Linked DNA regions of Homo sapiens. The protein of the gene in region 1 purifies or fractionates together with the protein of each later gene. This does not show direct contact. Each region holds a gene or a part of one and is shown on either strand. Other genes may lie near its edges.

The links.
Region 2: the proteins of SLC13A1 (region 1) and PLXNA2 purify together in Homo sapiens (affinity purification with mass spectrometry; one large-scale study listed by BioGRID and IntAct). This does not show direct contact.
Region 3: the proteins of SLC13A1 (region 1) and ROBO1 purify together in Homo sapiens (affinity purification with mass spectrometry; one large-scale study listed by BioGRID and IntAct). This does not show direct contact.
Region 4: the proteins of SLC13A1 (region 1) and DAAM1 purify together in Homo sapiens (affinity purification with mass spectrometry; one large-scale study listed by BioGRID and IntAct). This does not show direct contact.
Region 5: the proteins of SLC13A1 (region 1) and LMTK2 purify together in Homo sapiens (affinity purification with mass spectrometry; one large-scale study listed by BioGRID and IntAct). This does not show direct contact.
Region 6: the proteins of SLC13A1 (region 1) and UBXN8 purify together in Homo sapiens (affinity purification with mass spectrometry; one large-scale study listed by BioGRID and IntAct). This does not show direct contact.
Region 7: the proteins of SLC13A1 (region 1) and PLXNA1 purify together in Homo sapiens (affinity purification with mass spectrometry; one large-scale study listed by BioGRID and IntAct). This does not show direct contact.

The regions. Positions count from the first base shown.
Region 1 is NC_000007.14:123,197,170-123,201,337, reverse strand, and holds the start of SLC13A1 (solute carrier family 13 member 1), read left to right. Parts: upstream 1-1,368; 5' UTR 1,369-1,391; coding exon 1,392-1,490; intron 1,491-4,168. UniProt on the Homo sapiens protein: Sodium:sulfate symporter that mediates sulfate reabsorption in the kidney and small intestine. Can also mediate the transport of selenate and thiosulfate.
Region 2 is NC_000001.11:208,213,385-208,216,884, forward strand, and holds part of PLXNA2 (plexin-A2 precursor), read right to left. Parts: coding exon 3,351-3,500; intron 3,335-3,350; exon of another isoform or gene 3,251-3,334; intron 1-3,250. UniProt on the Homo sapiens protein: Coreceptor for SEMA3A and SEMA6A. Necessary for signaling by SEMA6A and class 3 semaphorins and subsequent remodeling of the cytoskeleton. Plays a role in axon guidance, invasive growth and cell migration.
Region 3 is NC_000003.12:78,634,499-78,637,998, reverse strand, and holds part of ROBO1 (roundabout homolog 1 isoform a precursor), read left to right. Parts: intron 1-1,890; coding exon 1,891-2,226; intron 2,227-3,500. UniProt on the Homo sapiens protein: Receptor for SLIT1 and SLIT2 that mediates cellular responses to molecular guidance cues in cellular migration, including axonal navigation at the ventral midline of the neural tube and projection of axons to different regions during neuronal development.
Region 4 is NC_000014.9:59,366,667-59,369,284, forward strand, and holds part of DAAM1 (disheveled-associated activator of morphogenesis 1), read left to right. Parts: intron 1-762; coding exon 763-933; intron 934-1,983; coding exon 1,984-2,193; 3' UTR 2,194-2,618. UniProt on the Homo sapiens protein: Binds to disheveled (Dvl) and Rho, and mediates Wnt-induced Dvl-Rho complex formation. May play a role as a scaffolding protein to recruit Rho-GDP and Rho-GEF, thereby enhancing Rho-GTP formation. Can direct nucleation and elongation of new actin filaments.
Region 5 is NC_000007.14:98,204,362-98,207,861, forward strand, and holds part of LMTK2 (serine/threonine-protein kinase LMTK2 precursor), read left to right. Parts: intron 1-1,102; coding exon 1,103-1,131; 3' UTR 1,132-3,500. UniProt on the Homo sapiens protein: Phosphorylates PPP1C, phosphorylase b and CFTR.
Region 6 is NC_000008.11:30,757,664-30,761,163, forward strand, and holds part of UBXN8 (UBX domain-containing protein 8), read left to right. Parts: intron 1-3,224; coding exon 3,225-3,266; intron 3,267-3,500. UniProt on the Homo sapiens protein: Involved in endoplasmic reticulum-associated degradation (ERAD) for misfolded lumenal proteins, possibly by tethering VCP to the endoplasmic reticulum membrane. May play a role in reproduction.
Region 7 is NC_000003.12:127,017,615-127,021,114, forward strand, and holds part of PLXNA1 (plexin-A1 precursor), read left to right. Parts: coding exon 1-50; intron 51-134; coding exon 135-278; intron 279-679; coding exon 680-914; intron 915-2,587; coding exon 2,588-2,730; intron 2,731-3,500. UniProt on the Homo sapiens protein: Coreceptor for SEMA3A, SEMA3C, SEMA3F and SEMA6D. Necessary for signaling by class 3 semaphorins and subsequent remodeling of the cytoskeleton. Plays a role in axon guidance, invasive growth and cell migration.

The DNA.
Region 1 (4,168 bases):
ATTGTTACCTATTTATTATCACTTACCATTTTATTACAATATCATTTGTAATTATCCTTTCATCTAAGAAATTTAAGATATAATAAGACTTTCTGGTTTGGAAACTTTTTTTCTGTTTACTATTCTGATTTTCCTGAATAACTGTCCATAATAGATGTTTAGGAATTTAAATTTTTTACAGGAAAAAAATGCTTTCTCATTTACATTAATATGGTGAGTACTGGTGAGAGAATTGTTTCTCTTGATGGAAAGAGAATGCAGAGTTATATTAGTATGAAGTTAGAAATAAGACCTAAATGCTAACTATAGATTACATAAGAGTAAGGTTATCTATGTCAAGAGATATTGACTATAAATTCTAGTAGGGCTGGGAATGTGTTTCATTTATATCTAAAGACAAGTAGTAGTTGCTAACTTGAGGTTTACTGGATCATCAATTTACAACACAACGTGAAAAAAACCAGGGTCCTTATCCCTGAAGATTTTCAAAATACATCCTCCATATCACTGTTGGAACAGTCTCCAACTTCCCATGTGCTCATGTGCACAAACCATACACACACACACATCACACACCACTTGAATGTCCCTAATCACTCATCTTTATGCAGATTCCCTGATAATTATGTAGTCTGTATCAGCACAACAGTATCAAATCAAGCCTTCAAAGGTCTTAAAATAGAGGGTTTATATAACACTTCATGGTTATTTTGGTTTTCTATCAAAAGAGACAATAGGGTCCAAGAAATACACAAAACTTTGCTTCTAACCAACAGGGACATTTGCTATAAATTTTGTAGAAGACCCTTGCAATACATTGTCCAAGAAGTCCGTTAAAAATCCATCTCTAAACAAAAAAGTTTCCCTTTCACTGTCATACACTGAAATTCCAACTATTAGTTGCTATTTCAATTTACACACTGAAAACATACTTCCTTAGAAAGGGCCATGGAGGCTGCCTGTGGAGACTCACTCATGGCACCATGACAATGTGGTAACTACTCCAGTTAGGGAGTCTGGAAGTCAGAGGACATCAAAAGGGTTGGAAGTGCCTCATTGTGAACAAACAACCAGCTTCATGGTTTTGCCTTCTCCTAGGCTTGTCCAGTCTGTATTTCAGTGAATGTGATCAAAGAAAGCAGGGAAAGAACAGTTTTTCCTTGAAAACCCAGAGGAGCAAATGGTCTTTGATTTCTCATGAAAAGTCTTGGGCCTATCTCTTCATGTTAATTGTGATAGTAAAACAATAAAAAATGAGATTTAATTTTAACTTGTGTTGGTCGGTCTAGGGCAGTGAGTGAAGGTGACAGGCTGGAAAAATATTAATCCAAGTTGGTTATTTAACATCTGCTTTATTTGGAGGACACTATTGAAGCCACCTGCTCAGGACAATGAAATTCTTCAGTTACATTCTGGTTTATCGCCGATTTCTCTTCGTGGTTTTCACTGTGTTGGTTTTACTACCTCTGCCCATCGTCCTCCACACCAAGGTGAGTGAACCTGGAGAACAGACTGGTGGATTTCCTGACTTATTTAATTGTCCTTTATTAAAACTGTTTGCTGTTTAACTGCCTGGCTCAGAGCTGAATGAATGTTGACCCTTCATACCTAAAGTCAGGATGGTTGTACATGATGTTTTGGCCATTTTCTCCCTTTTTAATAATTAACATTGGTTGATTCTTAGTATGATTAAACATAATTAAATAGAATATTCAATCAGAATTGTTCTCTGCCTATCAACTAGATGAGAGGAAGAACAAAAGAAGCACAACCTTTGAGATTTTGCAGTTCAAGTTGTCATTCTCCAGGGAGCATGCATGGCTAGTGCAATGCCTTCCCCTGAGAATAGGCAGCAAAGCAATTGCTGGGGACAGAGGTGGAAGAACAAGGGAAATCCTAGGTCCAGCACAGACTAATTTACTTCTCAGCTCTGTGGCTTTGTCACAGAACTTCCTGGAAATTTAGTTCCCTTGTAGGAAAAGAAGACATTGAAAGCTTAGAGTAATTTCCCTTGGTCAATCAGAAAATCTAATAAAGCATTTACCATGTTCTGATAATTCCAGGTTTTGTTTCATTGTGGTGTACTTGTAAGCATTTTTGTTTGCTTTTTAAGAGTAGTCAGGGCATTAAGTCCAGAACAATAAGCTCAAGCATGTTTAATTTCTTGGTAAAATGATTTGAATCAGCAAACATTTAATGAGCACCTTCTCTGTGCCAGGCACAAACGTCACTTGGTAGTAAGAGGACAGGCTTTGGAGCCAGATTCTCTGCTTCAGGTCCCAGATTTACCACTTACAAACTGTGTCACCTGGGCATGCTACTTAATGTCTCTGTGCTTCTGTTTTCTCATATGAAAGATGTGTATAGTAGCAGGCTTGTTGTGAGAATGAAATGAAGAAACACTCTTCAAACACTTATTTGGAGCAGTGCCTGGCACACAGTAAGTGTGCAGTGCCAGTCTCCTTGGGTGTGTTGACTCCACAGGTGGGGCAATTCCCAGCACTCCATTATGCACAGTCCCTCCTCTTAATGGGCAAGAACCCTGCTGATGCTCTCCTCTAACAAGTACTAATCGAGGTTACACCAGTCTGGGTTATAATAGAATCATATTAACTATAATATGGTGGTCCCTCCAGCCTCTGCCAGAAGCCTTTGCCAGTGATCCTGGGACCTCTGAAGGGAATTCATGTGAGCTAATAAAGTCCTTTTGGACACTGTCAAGGCCTATCCTACCTGCAAAGCTGGAGAAGGGACTGGCCCCTGCTGTGGCATCTGTGGGTTGTCTCCCACCAGGTGCAATCTTCTAGCTGCAGCATTCTTGGCTTATCTCTCCTTGTGCTGAGGTCTCACAGAGCTACATGGAGGGAAGGGAAAAACTCCCCACCCCTTTTGGTCCAAATTTCTAAGCCCTCAAATTCGTACAGAATTTGTAAATAATAATAATAACTAAAAGACCTTGTCAGCTGTTTTTGGCTTTGTTGGTTTTGTTTTTCAAATTCTGTGTGACTAACCCTTTCCCTCCCACCCTGCCACTCCCACCCCGGCTCCTTGTGAGGTCTCCTATATGAATCTCTGGCAGCCCCATCAGATGACAAATTCCAGCACAGAAATAGTGCTCTATTCTGAATTCTCACCCCATCTCCTTGCCAAGAACTTCATCTAAGACACATTATGATCTTCACTTTGCAACTCTCCTGGTCCCATGAGTCCTCTAGATTTGGCTGAATCCTATCATGACCATATCCTGCTTCATACCTGGAGCCCTGCTATATTTTAATATTTTTGAGTTAGTCTCAGCATACATTCTTACTTATGGCAGAGAAAGTAGGAAATTAAACTAGTCAAGACAAATTTAGGTCATTACCACATATCATCTGTGCTGCTCTTTTTACATATAAATGCATGACAATTTGATTATCCTCCATAATTTTCTGAGAAATGAATATAAACTCTTTGAAAAACAAAATGAGTAAATAAATCAAAAGCAATCATTTTAGTACATGATTCATTCACTGGGAAGTGTATTATTTTTAAGAAATGCAGCCACTGATTATTTTTTCCAAGGTGCTATGACAAAAGAACATTAGGTCCATGCAGGAACCAGGTGTCTGGCACCAAGTTGCATCTGGTGAGCTGGTTCCTCTTTCCTTTCCTCCTAATCAACTCATTTGTTAAAACTCAATTAATGTTAATGGAGGATTTATTCCTAGTATAATAACATGATATTATTTTTTGGCCACTTTAAACATATATTTAATCATTCAATAAACTGCTAATTAAACTGAAAGACTATTATTTTAACTTGCTTACAATGAAAGCAAATTATTTTTTTAAAGAATGTAGGCCTTTGGAGGGTATAAAATTTAAGGAGAAGTTTACTTTAACATAAATGCAAGTCAATTTACTGTTAACTTTTAGGTTACCAAACTGAAGAAGTCTATGCTTCTAAAGACACAATATTAGATTAATTAAAACATTCAATGGAAACAAAAATCCAAGTTTCTCTTTCAAAACCACAATTATAAAAAATAATTCCATGTGGGGCTATAATCTACAGGATGTAGAGCCAACAAACAATGAATTATTGACTGATTTCTTTCCTTCATTTTCCTGCTTGTTATTGAGTTGTTCAATAGACTGGCCTTAACTTATGTCTTAATTCCATCTA
Region 2 (3,500 bases), on another chromosome or scaffold:
AAATCCCCGCTTTATCACTTATAGCTGTGGAGATCTGAGCAACTTACTTAGTCTTTGTGAGCCTTTGTTTTTTAATCTGTAAAATGGGGAAGATAACTCTTGCTTTATGGGGTCATTGTGAGGAGCAAGTGAGATAACACTTAAATTGCCAAGCTTAGCCTTTAGGACTAGCTGCTATTCAATGAGTGATAGCCCCCTTCTTCCTCTCTTTTCTGGGATCAGAGCTCAAATTTTTGATCTGAGATTTCCATGTTATTCCAGAGTCATGTTAAAATCAAGCTCTGGGACCACAGCTTCTTTCATTTATCCTTATTCCCCTCTAAGGCCACCAAAATATTTCTGGGTCCCTGGGTCTTAGTTCTTTGGAGTATCAGGGTCTTTAAGGGGCCATTCCTCTTGCAGCCCTTGCACCAGAAGGGTGTGGTGCTGAAGGGGTGGAGGCAAGGGGCTCTCCACTCTAAGGTCCTGGCCCCACTCACTGTCACCTCTCTCCCAGTGCCTTTGCTATCCTTTTGTAACTAGCCCAGGCTTGTCCCTCTGCTCTGGAGCAGAGAAGAGTGTCATCTTCCTCTTTCCTCTGGCTCAGAAGCAGGCAGGAATCAGCAGTTTCCTCCTGACAAGGCCCCCTCTGGGTTATGGGAACTAGGCTGGACTCTGCAAGCATTTAACCCTTACGGAGGGTTACATTTCCTCTCCACCTCTCCACATTGGTTACGGCCAGTGGCCATAAAATTTTGGCGTTAAAAAAAAAAAAACCAAAGACTATCTAGTCTAGCTTCCTCATTTTACAACAGTAAGATAACTAAGAAAATAGCTGGCTCTTTACTACTGTGATTAATATTAATAATCATAGCGGCCCATTTATTGAATGCTTATTATGTTCCAGGTATTGTGCTAAGCACTTTACATAAATTTTCCATTTGATCCTCATAATAACCATGAAAAGAAGACAATATTATCTCTATTTTAAAGACGAAAAATTTACAGCTCAGACCAGGTACATAACTTGCCCAAAGTCACACAAGGAGTAAGTGGTAGGACTGATTTTTAATCCCCATCTGGTTTACTTCAAAGCCTTAACCACGACTCTTCTACCACACCAAGCAAATGATGACAGGAATAGAAGCGTAGCCTTGGAATGATGTTTTCTTGCTTCAAGTACTGGTGCTTGGTCCCAACGGCAGGCACCTTCAATTTAGAGTACTCAGAAGGTAGCCGTATGGGCCCCTTGGTCTCATATATTTTTTTCTAGGTTGCAGATCCAGAGCCCTCAGCACTGTGTACAAGAAACCTACTTTTGCACTTCTCACACTCCCTGTTAACTCCCTGTGTAATAATAAACCTAACATTTCCAGGCATGGTGCTAATCTCTCCATGTATTATCTCATCTGATCATCCCATGAGCTAGGCATTATTATTTCCATCTCACAGATAAGAATGTAGAGATGCTAAGGTGCTTCTGAAGAAGGCAGGAAGAAACACAGATGGAATTTGAAGCCTGGCTTTTGTCTCAGAACCTCAAACTCTGAGCCACTACATTATGTTGCCAGCTGTCTCTAGCTCTCTCTCTCTTCCTCTCTCTCTCTCTCTTCCCCCTACTAGATTATAAGATCTGTGAGACTAGTGATCATGTCTTTTTTTTTTCTGAGACAGGGTCTCACTCTGTCACCCAGGCTGGAGTATAGTAGCACAATCTTGGCTCACTGCAACCTCCACCTCCCATGCTCAGGCCTCCAGAGTAGCTGGTACTACAGGTGTGCATCACCACACCCAGCTAATTTTTGGAATTTTTGTAGAGACGGAGTTTTGTCATGTTGCCCAGGCTGGTCTCGAACTCCTGAGCTCAAGCAATCTGCCTACCTTAGCCTGCCAAAGTGCTGGGAGTACAGGTGTGAGCCACCGCACCCAGCCGATCATGTCTTTTTATGTTTGCAACCCCAGTGCCTAGTACAGTGCCAGGCATTCAGAAGATCTTCAATACTACTTGTAAATGAATAGAGGGATGGGTAGATGGATGATGGTGGATGAATAAAGAGAGGGATGAATGGATAGATGGAGGGCTAGGTAGACAAATGGATGATGGATAGATAAAGATATGGAGACATAGATTAAGGGAGAAAAAAGAGGGATGAGTGGATAAAGAGATGGATGAAGGGATGGAGGAAGGGATGGAGGAAAGAATGAAGGGAAGGATCAGGGACAGATGAATGGAGGTTTAGGTAAATAGGTGAATAGATGGATGGATGGATGATGGATGGATGGATGGATGGAGAGATGCATGGAGGGAGAGAGCTAAGGAGGATGGAGGGATAGATGGATAGGAGAATAAAAGGAGGGAAGGAAAGGGGATGGATGAAAGGAGAGATGGGTGGATAAATGAATGGATGATTGGATGGTTGGATGAATGATGGAAGAAGAGTGGATCATGAATACTTTGATGGCAGCACCATGAGCCGCTGACAGGGCAGTGCTTGCCACTGATTTTCTTGTCTCTGCTTTCCTCAGGTCTGGATTCTGAGCTTTTCATCCTCTCCTCTTTTGCCTTTGCCCACACTCCTGATTCTTCTCCAGTTTTCCATCAGTTGGTCAAGCCAGACTCCCTTCCCTCTCCTCTGACTTAGATTTCTGATCTCCACTTGACCCCCTCACTGGGAACCACAGTGGCCTACAGCTCTGTGTGTACATGACCTGGTCCCCATTACTTCTGATGGACCCCATCACCTGCTGCTCTTTCTCTCACATACTCTGATCTGGCTGCAGTTGCCTCCTTACTGTTCCTCAGACACTCCAGGCATGCCCTGAATTCTTTGCACATTCTCCTCACCCTTTCTCTCTCTGGAATGCTTTCTCTGGACACTTGTGTGGCTCCCTTTCTTCCCATCCTCAGTTTTTGCTTAGACACCACTTTCTCAATGAGTCAGTCCTCTCAGCTACTGCCTCTCCCCCTTTCCTGTTTATTTTTCTCTATAGCCATTATCACCATTTGGCAAACTAACATGTATTATGTGTTCATTTGTCTCACCCAACTAGCGTGTAATCTCCATGAGGGCAGTGAGCTTTGTAGGGTTGTATGGTTCACAGCTGAAGCCTGCAGCATTTACAATAGCACCTGATGTGATGTAGGCACTCAATACATATATTTGAAATGACAACAAATCAACACACATATCTCAAGTATCTGGTGTACGTAAGACCCTGCGTTATTGGTTACCACCTGATAACCTGAGTCTGAAAACCTCTTTCATTTCAGGTCCATGGTGGTGTGGGAGCAGATGTGCCCCAGGGCATGGACAGGAAGGTTGGAACCTGTGTCATGGAGCAGGAGCAGAGCGAGGTGTGTGCCTCCTTACCGCCTTGGTGCACTGGACGTCCTTCCCCAGCAGCCAGTTGAGCTCCAGGTTGCCCTCGCCCTGGTAGCAGGACTGCAGGCGCTCCTTGATCTGCAAGTTGATGGCCCGGATAGGGAAGGCACACAGGGCAGAGTCATCGGGCGGGTGGTG
Region 3 (3,500 bases), on another chromosome or scaffold:
CCCCTCCCCCCCCCAAAAAAAAACCCAATATTGCCAATATAGGAAATATTAAAATTATTGTATGGAATCTCTATGATGATAGAAGTAAAATAACCTGTGGAATTACGGAAAGGCGAGAGAGAAGTTGGATTTAAGTAAAGATGCTATGCACTATAAAGAACAAATCATAGAGCAGTCTGCATGTCTGCCCTTAAAGCGAATCCTGAGTGTCCACTGGACGTGGATGTGACGTATCCATGTGACCAAGTCTCTGTCCTCTAGAGGCCCATATTCTGAATGTCTAGACAGATAGATACTCATGTAATCATAAGTACAAGAAAAACTGGGTTGAGACCTATAGGAGAGAAAAAATGGCGATACCCATTTAATAGGTAGAGCTGTGTTGTCCAATATGGTAGCCATTGGCAACAGATGGCTATTTACATTGAATTTAATAAAATATAGTTTAAAACTCAGTCCCTCTTTTGCACTAGCTACATTTCTAGTGCTCAGTGGCCACGTGTGACTGGTGGCTGCTGTATCAGACAAAGTGGAGTAGACCATGTCCAATATCTCCAAAGTTCTGTTGGATAACACAAATATAGACAGATTGGCGAAACAAAATGAGAATGCAAAAACCACATGATCTTTATAGTATTTCTTAACCACTGTTAAACAAAACTAGAAATTAGAAATAAGAATCACAAAGTCCAGATGAATCAAATATTTCTGTTCCCTGACGGTTCATGGTTGAAATGCAGAATAGTTGAATTCAGTAGGATAGAGAAATTACACATTTTTCTTAAGATTATATTCACATTTACATCTTTAGTAACAAACATGTTAATTTATAATTTTTAAACATATCCAGTTAAAAACCAATGCTACAGGTGACTTGTTAATGTTGGTACCACTTTTGGACAACATGCATAAAATAATGACATTTTTACCATTGTAATTTAACTAATTTTTCTATTTAAAATCTATTTTAATTTAAAAATATGATTTCAGTTCTTCCTACCATTTTAATATTTTCAACTGCAGGCCATATATATATATATATATATATATATATATATATATAAAATGAATGTATATATTATGTATGTATATTCAGTTATTTAATGTCCAAATATTTCAATAGAGAGAAAACTGGAGTGGAAATGAGATATTAGATATTTAAGTATTATTTCAGGCTTATTTGATTCAATTACCCAGGTTACTATGATTCCTTTTGTTATTATTATTATTGTCATTTTATATTTCTTTGGTTGTCATTATGAAACCATGAGAAAATAATTATATAGCATGTTTTCCGGATAATGATTATCCAACAGGACTACAACAAGAACTAATAGAATTCTCCTTAGTACCATTTACTATCATTTTACCCCTGTTCCCATATCTTTTAAATGTAGGTATTTTATAAAATACCAAAATCTCAAGTTCTTTGATCTATGAATAGTTTTTTCCTTTGGATTTTTCATTTATGTGCTTTGTCTGTTGCTTCAGCAGCTAACCAGTAGCTTCAAATAATTCAGTAACCAAAGACTAGAAAATAAAAAGTTGACACATAAAGATATACATGTATATATTATTTTAGTGGAATTCCTATTAATGAGGTTATTAAATGAAAATTATTTTAAATTGGATGAATTGTTTACTTCAGCACTATCAGAAATTCAAATTTATTTAGTCTCTACAAATTCTGTGTACCCTCTTTTATTTTTTCAATTATTAATTTTCTTTAGAAAGCACATGTGGATATTTGGCCGTTTTTATTGATCTTATTTAAGCCCACTTGTACTTTACATAACGATTTTCTGATGACTCGCAAAGCTACGTAAAAAGAAATTTAAAAGGAATAACCACGCAGAATGATTTTTTCCTTTTCCTCTCCATTGCACATAGCTGATTGTATAGCAAATTATAACAACCAACTGGATAACAAACAAACAAATCTGATGCTCCCTGAGTCAACTGTTTATGGTGATGTGGACCTTAGTAACAAAATCAATGAGATGAAAACCTTCAATAGCCCAAATCTGAAGGATGGGCGTTTTGTCAATCCATCAGGGCAGCCTACTCCTTACGCCACCACTCAGCTCATCCAGTCAAACCTCAGCAACAACATGAACAATGGCAGCGGGGACTCTGGCGAGAAGCACTGGAAACCACTGGGACAGCAGAAACAAGAAGTGGCACCAGTTCAGTACAACATCGTGGAGCAAAACAAGCTGAACAAAGGTGAAGAGGCTTGCATGTATTCCCATCTGTTTCTGTATGATACTCTCAGCACCTCGACTAGATGTTGAAACTTGTCTGCGACTAGCAAGTAAAATCTTTTCTTCTGTCGCTGAGATTTTCTTATTTCTTTGGTTTCAAAATTTCCAGTGTCAAAGAGTTAATTAGCACAACAATAACCTTGGAAAATTTATTTTATAATAATATATAAGTATTTTCAAATGGTTTTGAGATTAATTTAAATTTAATAGCAGGTGAGGGATTGGGACGGACAATCTTTTATTCATGAGGCAGATGTACAACTGTCACAATACCTCGCATTTTCAATAAATAGACTATCCCATTCTTTCCACTAGAGGATGGAAGATAATTGCTTCTATGTGGTTATATAAACCAATGGCATTTTTATATCAACCTGAAATAAAATAATTAAATTAAACTTGAACTGGAGAAGTGGTTCAATTTGTTGTATGTCTCCCACCTCGTGTGGTTATTAAGACTGCTACAGTGTATAATTTTAGAACCTAAATTTCCTTGGTTGACCTGATTGAAGTCTGTCCGTATAGAACCTAAAATAAATTGAGTTTAGTATTAACTTGAAGCCGCAGAATAGTATTCTGTGGCCTGAAGGAAATGTTTCTGTATTGTAATGTGTATGAGTTGGAAAAGATAGGTGTTTGGTTTCTTTGTAGTCCTTTAGGCTACTGCTATAATATCATGATTTGCAAAGTTATACCTCTAGGAAAACCAGGATTGCTCTAATGTGAATAGATGGGGGCAATGCATCCCCACCTATTCCAGGTAAAGAATACACTGGAGATAATTGGAGACATAGACATTTTCTTTAGGTTTGGGTTGGGAACATTTTCTTTGAAAATGCGATTTATCACAGTTGAAGATGACAAAAATATAACTTAAAAATTTCATTTAAGTTAATATTATGTTTTAACTCGAGAATGAAGTCAGCTAGGCTTTTCTCAAGTTTAAGAAAGTACTTGATTGGTATAATAACCCAATTTAATAAATATGGATCGAGACTCCTGCATAAGTTCATAACAAAAACTGACAAAGATGAACAGGACAGTTTCTGTAATCATGGAGTTTGCAGTGGTGATTCAAACTATTGTCACATTATTCCTTCATAGTATATTGTTTTACTGTGGACTTCGGAAAGCCCTGAGAGCCTCCGCACAAATATTTCAGAACTCTGATTTATTGTTTATACTGCTTGTAAGCAGATTTGGTATGTCAGACCATAATAAAGAACCTGGAATGCA
Region 4 (2,618 bases), on another chromosome or scaffold:
GAGGAGTATTACAATTTTTACTTTAGAAATGATTAATAGACATGTTCAGCAGCTGAAGATAAATATAGGCTCACTAAAATCCATCAGTTATATTTGACTCAGCCGGGTGCAGCGGCACATGCCTATAGTCCCAGCTACTCGTGAGGCTTAAGAGGAAGGATTGCCCAGGAGTTTTTGGCTGTATTTTGCTGTGATCATACCTCTGAATAGCCACTAAACTCCAACCTGGGTAACATGTAAGACCCCATCTATTAAAAAAAAAAAAAACTAATAACATATGCATTCCAGCCTGGGCAACATGTAAGACCCCATCTCTTAAAACAAAACAACAAAAAAAAACTGCCGGGTGTGGTGGCTGAAACCTGTAATCCCAGCACTTTGGGAGGCCAAGGTGGGCAGATCACCTGAGGTCAGAAGTTGAGACCAGCCCGGCCAACATGGCAAAATCCTGACTCTACTAAAAATACAAAAATTAGCCAGGCATGGTGGTTTGTGCCTGTAATCCCAGCTACTTGGGAGGTTGAGGCTGGAGAATCGCTTGAACCCGAGAGACAGAGGTTGCAGTGAGCTGGGATCATGCCACTGCACTCCAGCCTGGGTGATGGCGAAACTCCATCTCCAAAAGAAAGAAAGAAATAAAAATAAATGAGCAAACAAAACTTACGTTTGACTCAATCTGGGCTTTGGTCTTTCTCAAGTTATTTATATTTGATTGTGGAATTCTCATGAAACATTGACTTCTTAAAACCATCTTTTTCCTAGTTTACTAAAGCAGTGAAGCACTTTGGGGAAGAGGCTGGCAAAATACAACCAGATGAGTTCTTTGGCATTTTTGATCAATTTCTTCAAGCTGTGTCAGAAGCCAAACAAGAAAACGAAAATATGAGAAAGAAAAAGGAGGAAGAAGAACGTCGAGCTCGCATGGAAGCTCAGGTGAGAGGATGATTAATTGACCAATTCCACCTCCTAGAAGTTCTATGACTGCAGCCCAGTCAAAGGTATTTAGAGAGCACTCTGACCTGGCAGGAAGGAAGGCTTCAATGTACTCTCTAGAATGCTGTGGGACTTTACATTGGTGTTGTTTCTCTTGGGCTATTTAACAGTGTATATTCAAAGCCTTAAAAAAAAAATCTATCCACATCCTTTGCTCTGGAATTCCATTTCTTAGCAATTATTTTAAAGAAATAATCATAAATTTACACAAAAAAGGGCAGCATTCTTTATAATAGCACCAAGCTAAAGACAACCTAAATGTTTACCAAAAGGGGATGAGTTCTAAATGATATAACAGCCATATAATGGAATATTTATGCAGTCCTTGAAAGACATGTATTCAAAGAATAATGATACAGAAAAAGATTTCTACATGAAATCTTTTTCTGTTTTGTTTTTTAAGGTGTGTTAATACATATAGAAAATAATAGTGGTGTGATAAACCTTTAAAAAGTTCACAGTAGTAGAATTAAAGATGTTTCCCCCACCTTCCTTTTATCTGAATTATCCAAATTGTCTACAATGTGTATGTATTAGTTGGCTTTTAATAACAGTAACTATTGTGTATCAGGTTTCAGGCTTCCACAGTAGACACAAGCTAAGCCTTTGATATAAGGAAAATGGCCTGATGACCATTTGCTTTAGTTATTTGGGGTCTATGTAATAGTGATACCTTTTTTTTAATTTTCATTAGCAGAAACACAAATTGCCTCAATTGCTCTTATTTTAACTAGAATATCATGCAGTTTACCTAGAATCTAGGTGGTGAGGGTCTAACCACAAGGGAGTGGTTGTTTTTTGTTGTCCATTGCTCCTGCAATGGAGACCCCATGTTCCAATTCCCCCTTTCTTGTGATATCCAAAGGGGGTTATAGGATGAGCATAGCTTGGTGTCTGGAGCATTACCATATTTCAAGGAATTGACCTCTACTGCAAACAAAATGCAACATTTTGACATGTCTCAAAGAGGTTATTTCTTTCTATTTGCAGCTCAAAGAACAACGTGAAAGGGAACGTAAAATGAGAAAAGCTAAAGAGAATAGTGAAGAAAGCGGAGAGTTTGATGACCTTGTTTCAGCTTTACGCTCAGGAGAAGTGTTTGACAAAGACCTTTCTAAATTGAAACGGAATCGCAAACGTATTACCAACCAGATGACTGACAGCAGCAGAGAGAGACCAATCACAAAACTTAATTTCTAATTTTCCATGAATACTTTTTTTTAGAAAGCTCATTAGCAGCCCTCTAAAGTGACTAGAACGTTTCATTACACTGCCTTGCAATCCAAACAGTGGCAATTTTTTCCTTCATCTGTGAGTGAATGTGTGAACGTGTGTATGTAAATGTATGTGTGTATATATTAAAAAATGTATATAGATGTCTGAGTGTTGTCTGGAGACCTATACGTATGGTTAAAAAGATTTATGTTAATGTATGTGCTCCAAAACCTTTCGTGTATGCATTCACATTGAGTGTGGCTCATTTTCTTTCCCCGAACGCCATGACTGTTCAGAAGCACAATACTATCTCCTGAAAGAGATAAGAGACATTCCCTAGATTCAAAGGCAAAACAGAAGAAACAAACAAACAAACAAAAAAAGCTTGCAAAATATTTTATGGTTTCCAA
Region 5 (3,500 bases), about 25 Mb from region 1:
CTGTAATCCCAGCTACTCAGGAGGCTGAGGTGGGAGGATCAGTTGAGCCTGGGAGTGTGAGACCAGCCTGGGCAACATAGTGAGACCCCATCTCTAAAAAAAATAAAAACTAAAAAATTAGCTGGATGTGGTGGTGTGCACCTGCACTTCAGCTACTCAGGAGGCTGAGGTGGGAGGAATGCTTGAGCCCAGGAGTTCAAGGCTACAGTGACCTATGATTGTGCCACTGCCCTCCAGCATGGGTGACAGAGCAAGACCCTGCCTCTAAAATAAATAAATAAAACTGCCAGCATCCTGAGTGTGCTCTCGGGGCCATGCCCCCTGCCTGTTGTGGTCACTCTCAGGCTCGTTACCGGCCACCCTGTGGGGCCAGGCTGAGGCAGAGGGGCTCTGGGTCCCAGGAACGCCCAGGCTGCGCGCCATCTCCTCTTTTTCTCCTGTGGCTGCATAGTCCCTCCTCCGCACTCTGTCTCCTCCTTTCCCAGAGAGAACCTGCTCTTCAGCAGGCTCGTAAGAGCACTTGACCCCTGGACTTGGGACCAGCCCACATGCCCTCTGGTGCTGCCCCTGGAATGTTGGTTTTGCTGCTGAGTCTTGGTCCTGGTGTGGCTCCCGAGGGCGGGGTGGGGTGAATGGGCAGGGGCCATTTGAAGTCGAGGTATCTGAACATAGGGAGCCTTCTTTCCCCGTCACTAGATTGAAAGATAAAGGTTAATAGGCTCATTTTTTGATTGGAAGTTTACAGATCAAATAATAAATATGGAATACAAAGAGGCTTTATTTCCCTCGGCGCTAGGCTTCATTTGTGCCGATTAGATAACACCTGCTATCTGCCAGTCTGTCGGGGCAGATGTGTGGATCCCAGCTGACTTCTTCTGCACCCTGACCCTTAGCGCCCAGCGGGCATTTGAGCCTAGCAGATGTGGGAGAGTCAGGCAGGGGCTGCTTCCGAAGGAAAGGACAGGAAGGGCGGCTCAGGCGGTGCTGGGCTCAAAACACCCGCTTCCGTTCCTGTGGTGCAGCGCACATGCCATCCACGCCATGCCTGTCTGATCATTTTAAAAACCCAGCTTTGTCGTCTCGCTTCCTCTCTCCTCAACAGGAAGCAGCGAAGACGGAGAAAAGGACTAGGTGGCTGCCAACGCGCACGCTCGGGTCCGAGGCTGCTCCCCTGGAGCGGCGCCCCTGCGCCCTCAGCCCGAGCAGCGACATCCACTCGCCATTTGCTGACATGAGATTGGGAGGAAGAATCCAGAGGTGAAGAGGGAGACGGCTCTTAGCTGCGTTCAAGGCGGGGCCCTCGGGAGCCCAGGTGCAGAGCGAGGCCGTGTCCAGGAGCCGGCGTCCCTCAGTGCCCCGTGCACCCGCGGCCGCGGCCTCCCAGGCAGTGCTCATGCGCTGGCCGTCGGGGGAGGCAGGGGCACAGCCTCCATGTGCGCGCGCGTGTGGAGCTGTGTGCACCGCATGTGTGCTTTCCACAGGGGCGTCTCTGCGTCCACGCCTGCACATCCCGGCGCACGTGTGGGCACCACAGAGGACACGTGAGGGGAATGGTCACCAGTGAGCCATATTTATTATTTCTAGAGAAATCACGAACTGCTTTCTGTAATTGCACTGTGGATAAATGTTCCGAGAGTCTCCATTGTTGTACAGGATCTTCAGTTATTCGAGGGGAATGAGGCAGGTCAAGCCGATGCTAGCCACTAGTTTGATTTTTTTTCTGTTTTATAGTTTGCGCTGCATGGTACTTGTGAAGCTTAAATATTTTGAGTGTTCTACTGTGTCTAGGATTGTTGGGATTGTACATATGGTACTCTTTCATAAATGATAAATGATTCTGAATGTTAGTGTTTTATGTTCATATAGGAAATATTTTCATTGAGTCCAAAATACCACTGTTTTGTTGATGGACTTGAATGCATTTTTGTCTCTTCTTGATGAAGCGGCTTTGCCGCAGCAAATGAGGCTTCTCTCTGAGGAGCTGAGAGGTCTTGCAGCCTCTCCTTGTCATTCTCCCACCCCACATCCCATTTTTTAAAGCCCTTTTGGTAAAAACCAACAGGTTGTGGCCGCAGACCTCAGATGGACCCGGCCCATCCCTGGGGACGTGCTGGCGTGGCAGGTCCAGAGAGCTGCACCCTGCACGGGGCACCGCACCGCTTCCCTCCGCGCAGCTCTTCTGCCTGGTTTTCGGAGGCCAGGCTGCTGGGAAGCTTCCGTGTTCCTGTCAGTCCTTCCTTCAAGAAGCCGGGGAACTCAGGCAGACTCATCTCCGCAGAGCATACCAGCCGTGGGGGACCGTTCGACTTGATGATGTGTGCACACTTCAGGTGGTGGGGACTTGAGCTTTAAAAAAACCTCCACAGCCGAATCTTCTCCTCCGAGCCACTCCACGTCACGTCCAGCTGGGCCTGGCCAGTCTGTGGTTATCCATGTGGGATGAGATAACACCACATCCTGCAGCTGTGAAGGGGGATGGACAAGGGACGACGGCCGACGGCAGAGCATCAGCAGCCGACACATAGTTCGGGTCGGGGCCTTGGGTGGTCCTGCATGGCCCGGGACTCATCTCACGGACCCTCCGTTCTGCATTAAGCCCCAGGTTCTCTTCTGGCTTTGAAAGGGCCCGAGTGCTCCCAGTGTAGCTTCGTCACATCGTCACGAGCCCCTGTGGTCATGGGCGACCTCACACCTCCCTCCCTGAGTTCTGCTCTGACATAAGGAAGTCCTCGGTGGCTGGTGCAGCGCGGCTGTGCTGTGCTGGGGAGGCAGCCGTTCCTTCGGGGGTCCTTGGGCCTGCAGTCCCCTCATACTCACCCTTCACCCAACATATTTTCCGGTGCTGATATGTTTCCAGACTCCAGCGCAACCTGGGGTGCTCTCCAGACCCGTGCAGGGGCCGCCTGGGGTACACGGAAGGAAGTTGAGTCCTAGTGCAAAATGCAGGCGGACGTTGCCAGAGAGTGCGCAGCAAATGACCTTCATTGCCAGTTCCACCCTACTCCTCTCATTTTTTATACTAAGCAATAACTTTCCAAAGCAAGAAGTTCAGGATGGAGAGAGTCCCCTCCTGTGTAGGCATGGGGTGGATGCGGTGCCCACCTGGGCTATGTGGGGAGCACCACTGTCTCGGGATGCGCGAATTTTTTTTTTTTTTTTAATTAACAGGGCATTAGAAGATGATTTTGCCAAAATTGTCATGACTCTGAATTCTTGCTGTGGGGACTTCCTGAGTTTTCTCAGTTTTTACATCTAAGATTAGTCTTGGCTGAAGAGAAATGAGACGTGATTATACTACTTTTTCAATTGCAGGTTTAAGGAGTTCAGATTTAATGACCAAAGTCATACAGATCATGGAATCTGTCGTCGTCTTATACAGTGTCAGCCTCGAGTACATTTATTAACCTTTTGGGGCTGTCAGTTTTCCACTAGGATTAAGATTTTGGCCGGGCGCGGTGGCTCACGCCTGCAATCCCAACACATTGGGGGGTCGAGGCGGA
Region 6 (3,500 bases), on another chromosome or scaffold:
GCCTGGCTAAGATGGTAAAACCCCATCTCTACTAAAAATACAAAAATTAGCCAGGTGCAGTGGCAGGCGCCTGTAATCCCAGCTACTCAGGAGGCTGAAGCAGGAGAATCTCTTGAACCCAGCGGGGTGGAGGTTGCAGTGAGCCTAGATTGCGCCACTGCACTCCAGCCTGCGCGACAGAGTGAGACTCCGTCTCAAAAAAAAAAAAAAAAAAGAATTGATATTTTTTCTTTGTTTTTTTGAGACAGAGTCTCACTCTGTCGCCCAGACTGGAATACAGTGGTGAAATCTCAGCTCACTGCAGGCTCTGCCTCCTGGGTTCACACCATTCTCACCATTCTCCTGCCTCAGCCTCCCGAGTAGCTGGGACTACAGGCGCCCACCACCCCACCCAGCTAATTTTTTTGTATTTTTAGTAGAGACGGGGTTTCACCATGTTAGCCAGGATGGTCTCAATCTCCTGACCACGTGATCCGCCCGCCTTGGCCTCCCAAAGTGCTGGGATTACAGGCGTGAGCCACTGCGCCCAGCCGAAAATACTCAATTCTTTTTAAGGAATTTGATTATGTAAAAATGAAAAATATAATGCTTACGAAGGGAAGCATTCCTATTAACTTAAGAACATTATCAAGCCCTATCTTGTGAGTGGCTAATAGCTGTTATTAACATGAGTGTATAATTTTCCTTACTGGCCCTTCTAGGGAATAGATTAGCAATCAGTCACTTTGGATTAGTGCCCAGGTTTATTATACATGTTGTTCATTCAAATCTTCAATCCTTAACTAAGTTAATTCCAATTGGAGCTGGAAAAGATTAGAAATAAGAAATCTGTTTTTACTGGCCCTTAGGGAAAGCTGGGAGGCTGTCTATTCCCTGAAAATAGTTTCTAAGATATTGCTTCTCAATCTGAGATTTCCTGGTCCCATAGTGGAGATTGAGCAGGGGAATCAGATTATTGAACTATCACTGACCTTTGAAAAAGATCGATATGAACTAAACGGACTGATTAAAAATTCATGTTTGTGTTTTGTTAATGACACTGTCTTATGCTGATGGCAGATTTTACTTGACAGTCACATATGCTTTTGATACCAAAGGAAAACAAATGAGTTATTTAGCAAATGCAGGTAAGGTTAGATTAAATGTTATAAAATATACTCTATGGTATTAATAAAGAGTTCCTGGAGATGAAGTCATTGGTAACAAATGTTTTTTTTGTTTGTTTTTTTTGTTTTTTTTTTTTTTTTTGAGACGGAGTCTCGCTTTGTCACCCAGGCTGGAGTGCAGTGGCGTGATCTCGGCTCACTGCAAGCTCCTCCTCCCGGCTTCACGCCATTCTCCTGCCTCAGCCTCCCGGGTAGCTGGGACTACAGGTGCCCGCCACCACGCCCGGCTAATTTTTTGTATTTTTAGTAGAGACAGGGTTCCATCGTGTTGGCCAGGATGGTCTCGATCTCCTGACCTCATGATCTGCCCTCCTCGGCCTCCCAAAGTGCTGGGATTACAGGCGTGAGCCACCACGCCCGGCCACAAATGTCTTAATGAAAGAAAATGGTCTAAATATCTGGATTATTTTATTTTTATTTTTTTGAGACAGAGCCTCACTCTGTCACCCAGGCTGGAGTGCAGTGGCACAGTCATGGCTCACTGCAATCTCTGCCTCCTGGGTTCAAGAGATTCTCATGCCTCAACCTCCTGAGTAGCAGGATTACAGGTGTGCGCCACCACGCCTAGCTCATTTTTGTATTTTTAGTAGAGATGGGGTATCACCATGTTGGCCAGGCTGGTCTCAAACTCCTGACCTCAGGTGATCTGCCTGCCTCAGCCCCCGAAAGTTCTGGGATTACAGGCGTGAGACACCACACCCAGCCCAATATCTGGATTCTTAATAGATTAATGGAAATAGGGAAACATGAGTAAATGACAAAAGCAACCAAAGTGAATGGTTTCTGGCAGTCACCTAGGAGTGTGAGTGACAAAAAGTTCATATTCATGTTAAAATGTGTATATGGGCCGGGTGTGGTGGCTCACGCCTGTAATCCCAGGACTTTGGGAGGCTGAGGCAGGCGGATCACAAGGTCAGGAAGTCGAGACCATCTTGGCTAACACGGGGAAACCCTATCTCTACTAAAAAATACAAAAAATTAGCGGGGCATGGTGGCAGGCGCCTGTAGTCCTAGCTACTTGGGAGGCTGAGACAGGAGAATGGCCTGAACCCAGGAGGCAGAGCTTGCAGTGAGCCAAGATCGCGCCACTGCACTCCAGCCTGGGCGACAGAGTGAGACTCCGTCTCAGAAAAATAAATAAATAAAATAAAATAAAATAAAATAAAATAAAATAAAATAAAATATGTATATGTTTGAAGCAAAATAATTTTGGGGTCTTACTGAATTTTCTTTTCTTTTTTTTTTTTTTTAAGATGGAGGCTTGCTCTGTCACCCAGGCCAGAATGCAGTGGCACAACCTCAGCTCACTGCAACCTCTGCTTCATGGGTTCCAAGCGATTTTCCTGCCTCAGCCTCCCGAGTAGCTGGGATTATGGGCACCCGCCATCATGCCTGATAATTTTTGTATTTTTGTAGAGACGGGGTTTCACCATGTGAGCCACGCTGATCATGAACTCTTGACCTCAAGTGATCCACCTGCCTCGGCCTCCCAGTGTGTCGGGATTACAGGCATGAGCCACTGCGCCCAGCTGATACATGTTAACATTTATCCTGTTTTTATATGTATGTATGTGTATATGCATACACAATCATATATATATATATATATATATATTTTTTTTTTTTTTTAAAGTGACAGGGTCTTGCTTTGTTGCAATGGTTGGCCTTGAACTTCTGAGCTCAAGTGATCTTCCTGCCTCAGCCTCCTGAGTTGCTGGGATTACGGACATGAGCCACTGCATCTGGCTTGCTTTTTTACATAGTGCATTTTTATATATTAGTAATATTTTGGAACATAATAGAAGCAAAATCCTTTAAGTATGTATAGATTGGGAGCTATTATCTCAAATCCTATTTTTATGATTAATTTTTAGCACACTTGCCCAAAAATGTTTATTAATTGAACTATTTTCATTATAAACTCTTTATAGATGTATGAAGAAAAGATATAAGTAAGCTTAGATGTGTGTCTAAACTCTGTATTGAGAGGAACTCTTCTCATTGACACTTTTGCTTGTTGAACATGTTTACATTCCTCTTACCAATACTTTTCTTTAGATTCCTGATTTACCTGAAGAACCTTCTCAAACAGCAGAAGAAGTAAGTCTATTTTTCTCTTCGAAAATTAAACTTATTTTCTATTTTCTTTGCTTAACATCCATTAAATATGTCTTATCTAAACTTGGGTTTAGAAAGAAGTGATAGCATAAGTGTTCATGTGATTATACTGTAACTAGGTCTTTTTTAGAACATAGAGACAGGGTCTCACTATGTTGCCTAGGCTGGCCTTGAACTCCTGGGCTCAAGTGATCCACCCGCCTCAGCCTCCTGGGT
Region 7 (3,500 bases), on another chromosome or scaffold:
GCCCCACTGGCCTGCTGGAGCTGAAGCCCAGCTCCCCACTCATCCTCAAGGTGGGTCACCATTGCCCGTAGGCTGGGCCAAGCCAGGGAAGAGGCCCCTCGTCCTGGGCTCTGGCTCACCCCCATCTCCTACAGGGCCGGAACCTCTTGCCACCTGCACCCGGCAACTCCCGACTCAACTACACGGTGCTCATCGGCTCCACACCCTGTACCCTCACCGTGTCGGAGACGCAACTGCTGTGCGAGGCGCCCAACCTCACTGGGCAGCACAAGGTCACGGTGCGTCTGTCCACCGGGGGTGCAGAGCTGGGAGAGCCATGCCCCACCTGTGGACCCTGCCCCACTAGCACAGCCCCAGCTCTGACCTTGCCCGAGACTCACCCCTAGCTCAGAGGGCGCCCGGCTCCAGTGCAGGCCCTGCCGTAGCCTTCAGCCTGCCACCTCCTTGAGCCCCCCGAGACTGCCTACCCACCCTGAGCCCTTGCCATGCCAGTGGTGCCCTGGCTGGCCAGGCGCCTGCCCTGGGTCCCAGTGTCTCCACCCTGGTGACCACTCTGTGCCCCTGTCGGTGGGACCTTTCCCACAGGCAGGTGTTGGGGGTGGGTCTTGCCCATCGGGAGGGGCTCCCAAGCTTTGTGGAAAGCATGGGAAGCTCCTGAGTGGCCTCCACCCACTGGCAGGTGCGGGCAGGTGGCTTCGAGTTCTCGCCAGGGACACTGCAGGTGTACTCGGACAGCCTGCTGACGCTGCCTGCCATTGTGGGCATTGGCGGAGGCGGGGGTCTCCTGCTGCTGGTCATCGTGGCTGTGCTCATCGCCTACAAGCGCAAGTCACGAGATGCTGACCGCACACTCAAGCGGCTGCAGCTCCAGATGGACAACCTGGAGTCCCGCGTGGCCCTCGAATGCAAGGAAGGTCTGTTGGGGCCAGGGCTCACTGGGGCAACTGCCACCTCCGAGCCAGGCCCTGGCCTGTCCCCACACCTACTTCCCACCGCCGCCCCCACCCTGCTTCAGCTCAGTTTACAATGTTCCTGATAGCCTTGCTGTGCCAGAGCTGGTCCCAGGGCAGTGGGCGGGTGCCTGACCAGGGCCTGGCCCTGCAGCAGGTACCACCTCCTTGGGGTGCTGCTTGCGACACAGAACCCAAAGCCAGACTGTTTGCATTTGTATCCCAGCTGGGCTATAAGGCTGAAGGTGGCTACTTACCCTTCTGTGGCTCAGTCTTGTCGTCTCTAGAGTGGGCACAATGACAGTGCCTACTTTCCCTGGGTGCTGGGAGTCGTGGTGGGTTGGCTGGTGCCAGCGGAGCAGCAGAGAGGGGTGCTTCCACCATGCAGCAATGGGGAGCCCTTGCGCTTTGGCAGTCCCTGGGCACATAGAGATCTTGGCCTGAGCTGACCTTTGTCCTTGAGATGTCTATAGGGGGAGTCATGCCACACCATGCTCCTGATCAGGGCAGGTGTGAGTGGCAGAAATCTGTTCCATGCCGGGCGAGACTTTGAGCGTTTGCAGATAGTAACTCACACATGTTCAGGGCTCTAGGGGGCAGATACTAGGAGTGTTCCTGCTGCAGTGTAGGACCTTAGCCATGTGGTCCAGCATGGGGTTGTCATGAATTCCACTGGGACTCAACTGGGATGGGGTGTTTTGTTTGCACAGGACTCAGCCAGTCTTAAAATGCAAAGTTCTGCATCCTGGGAGCCCTCTCAGTCCCAGACAAACCTAAGTGGCCCTGTGGTGGGCTGAGGGTCACCCTACCTCTTGGGCAGCCCTGGTGGGACTGGAGGCAGGTGTGTGTTGGGGCCAGGTGGGAGGCAGGTGGCCTGGACCTCCCTTGTGCTCCCGCCTGCTGAGGCTGGCTGTCTGGCGAGGCTGGCGTGTGTGGATGCAGTGGCTGGTGGCTGCTCCAGGCCAGCCAGGTGCAGATAACTAGACGCCTGGCAGCGATGCCCAGGAGACGAAGACTCCAGCTCTTAATTAAACCTGTCAGATGTCCCCCAGAGCCTGCCTGGCACTCCTTTGGCTTCTGATCAGATAGCCTGATCCTCGGGCTGCCACAGGACTGACACCTCACAGCTCTGGAATGTTCTGTCAGGGCCTGCCTGCCTTTGTTCCTGACAGAGGCAGAGCTGGCCCTGAGCAGGGTGGGCCATGTTGAGGGTGCACCAGGCCCGAGATGTGCATGCAATGGTGTGGGGGCTTGGGGACAGCCTGCAGCCCTGGGACCTCACCCCTGGCCGCACTCCACCACCTCACAGCGGGTGGAAGGAGCCCGAACTCCAAAGCTGCTCTACGCTTAACTGCCAGTGTCTGAGATGCAGGAGGCCCTGCCCAGCCTGCCCCTGGTGCTGATGCTTTCTCTGCCCTTGTCTTGCTTGATCCTGTGGGAACCTTGCAGAGGAGAGTTACTATCCCTGTGCTAGGGCTGTAGTAGCTGGGGGACGAAGAGGCACAGTAGTTTCCTTAAGATCACGAAACCAGTAAGTGTCAGAGCCAGGATTTGATGTAGGCCCCAAGAGTGGGAGGGTTGGGGCATGGAGCGGGGCCACCAGGGCATGCTGCCCCTGACGCCGCATCTGGCCACAGCCTTTGCAGAGCTGCAGACAGACATCCACGAGCTGACCAATGACCTGGACGGTGCCGGCATCCCCTTCCTTGACTACCGGACATATGCCATGCGGGTGCTCTTTCCTGGGATCGAGGACCACCCTGTGCTCAAGGAGATGGAGGTAGGACCACTGGCTCCGGGGGGTCACAGGAACTCAGAGGCAGCTGCTATCTTCTGCCTTTGAGGCTCCTTGGGTGCTGATGGATGGTATGGGGCAGCCTGTGTGGCCTGGGGGAGGGTCCAGGCCTGCAGGGCTCTGGGCTCAGCCAAGTGGGGAGCAGGTGCTGGGAGGCAGAACCAAGACCAGGCAAGCACAGTGGAGCCCTGAGCCCTGGGGTTGGGGCAGGGGAATGGCCAGCACGGCTCTGCTCCATAAAGTACCTCCAGAGGGCAGGAGGAGGCTCTGGCCCCAGGGCCTCCGTGGGATGCCAGGCCTCATCCCAGCAAACCACTTGTCAGCCTGGGCTTCTGGCACCTCCCCGGTGGCTGCCCCTTGGGCCCTGCCTCTGTTGGGGGTCCCGCCTGCGGCTCCACTGGCCTGGTCTCCTGGGTGGCTCTGGATGCGAAGCCTCGCTGGGCAGGGGCCGTGTGCTGGGAGGTGCGGGTGCCTGATGAAGTCTGCTATGGCGGTTTGGGAGGGGAGCATGTGGCTGGCATAGCACCAGGGTCTCAGAGAGTAGGGCTTTGCCCCGTAGACCTTGGCAGCGAGCCTGGCGAGGGAAAAGAGGGCTGGCTCCCACACCCCTAAAAGGCCCCCAGCGGCAGGCAGGCTAGGAGCCAGTCCTTGGCGAGCCACGGCCAGGGGCTCGGCAGGTTAGCTCAGTCACACTCTCCAGCTGAGGGCACCCCCCAACCGTGTGCCTTGGATGTTGGGGAGCCCATGTCCCTTGT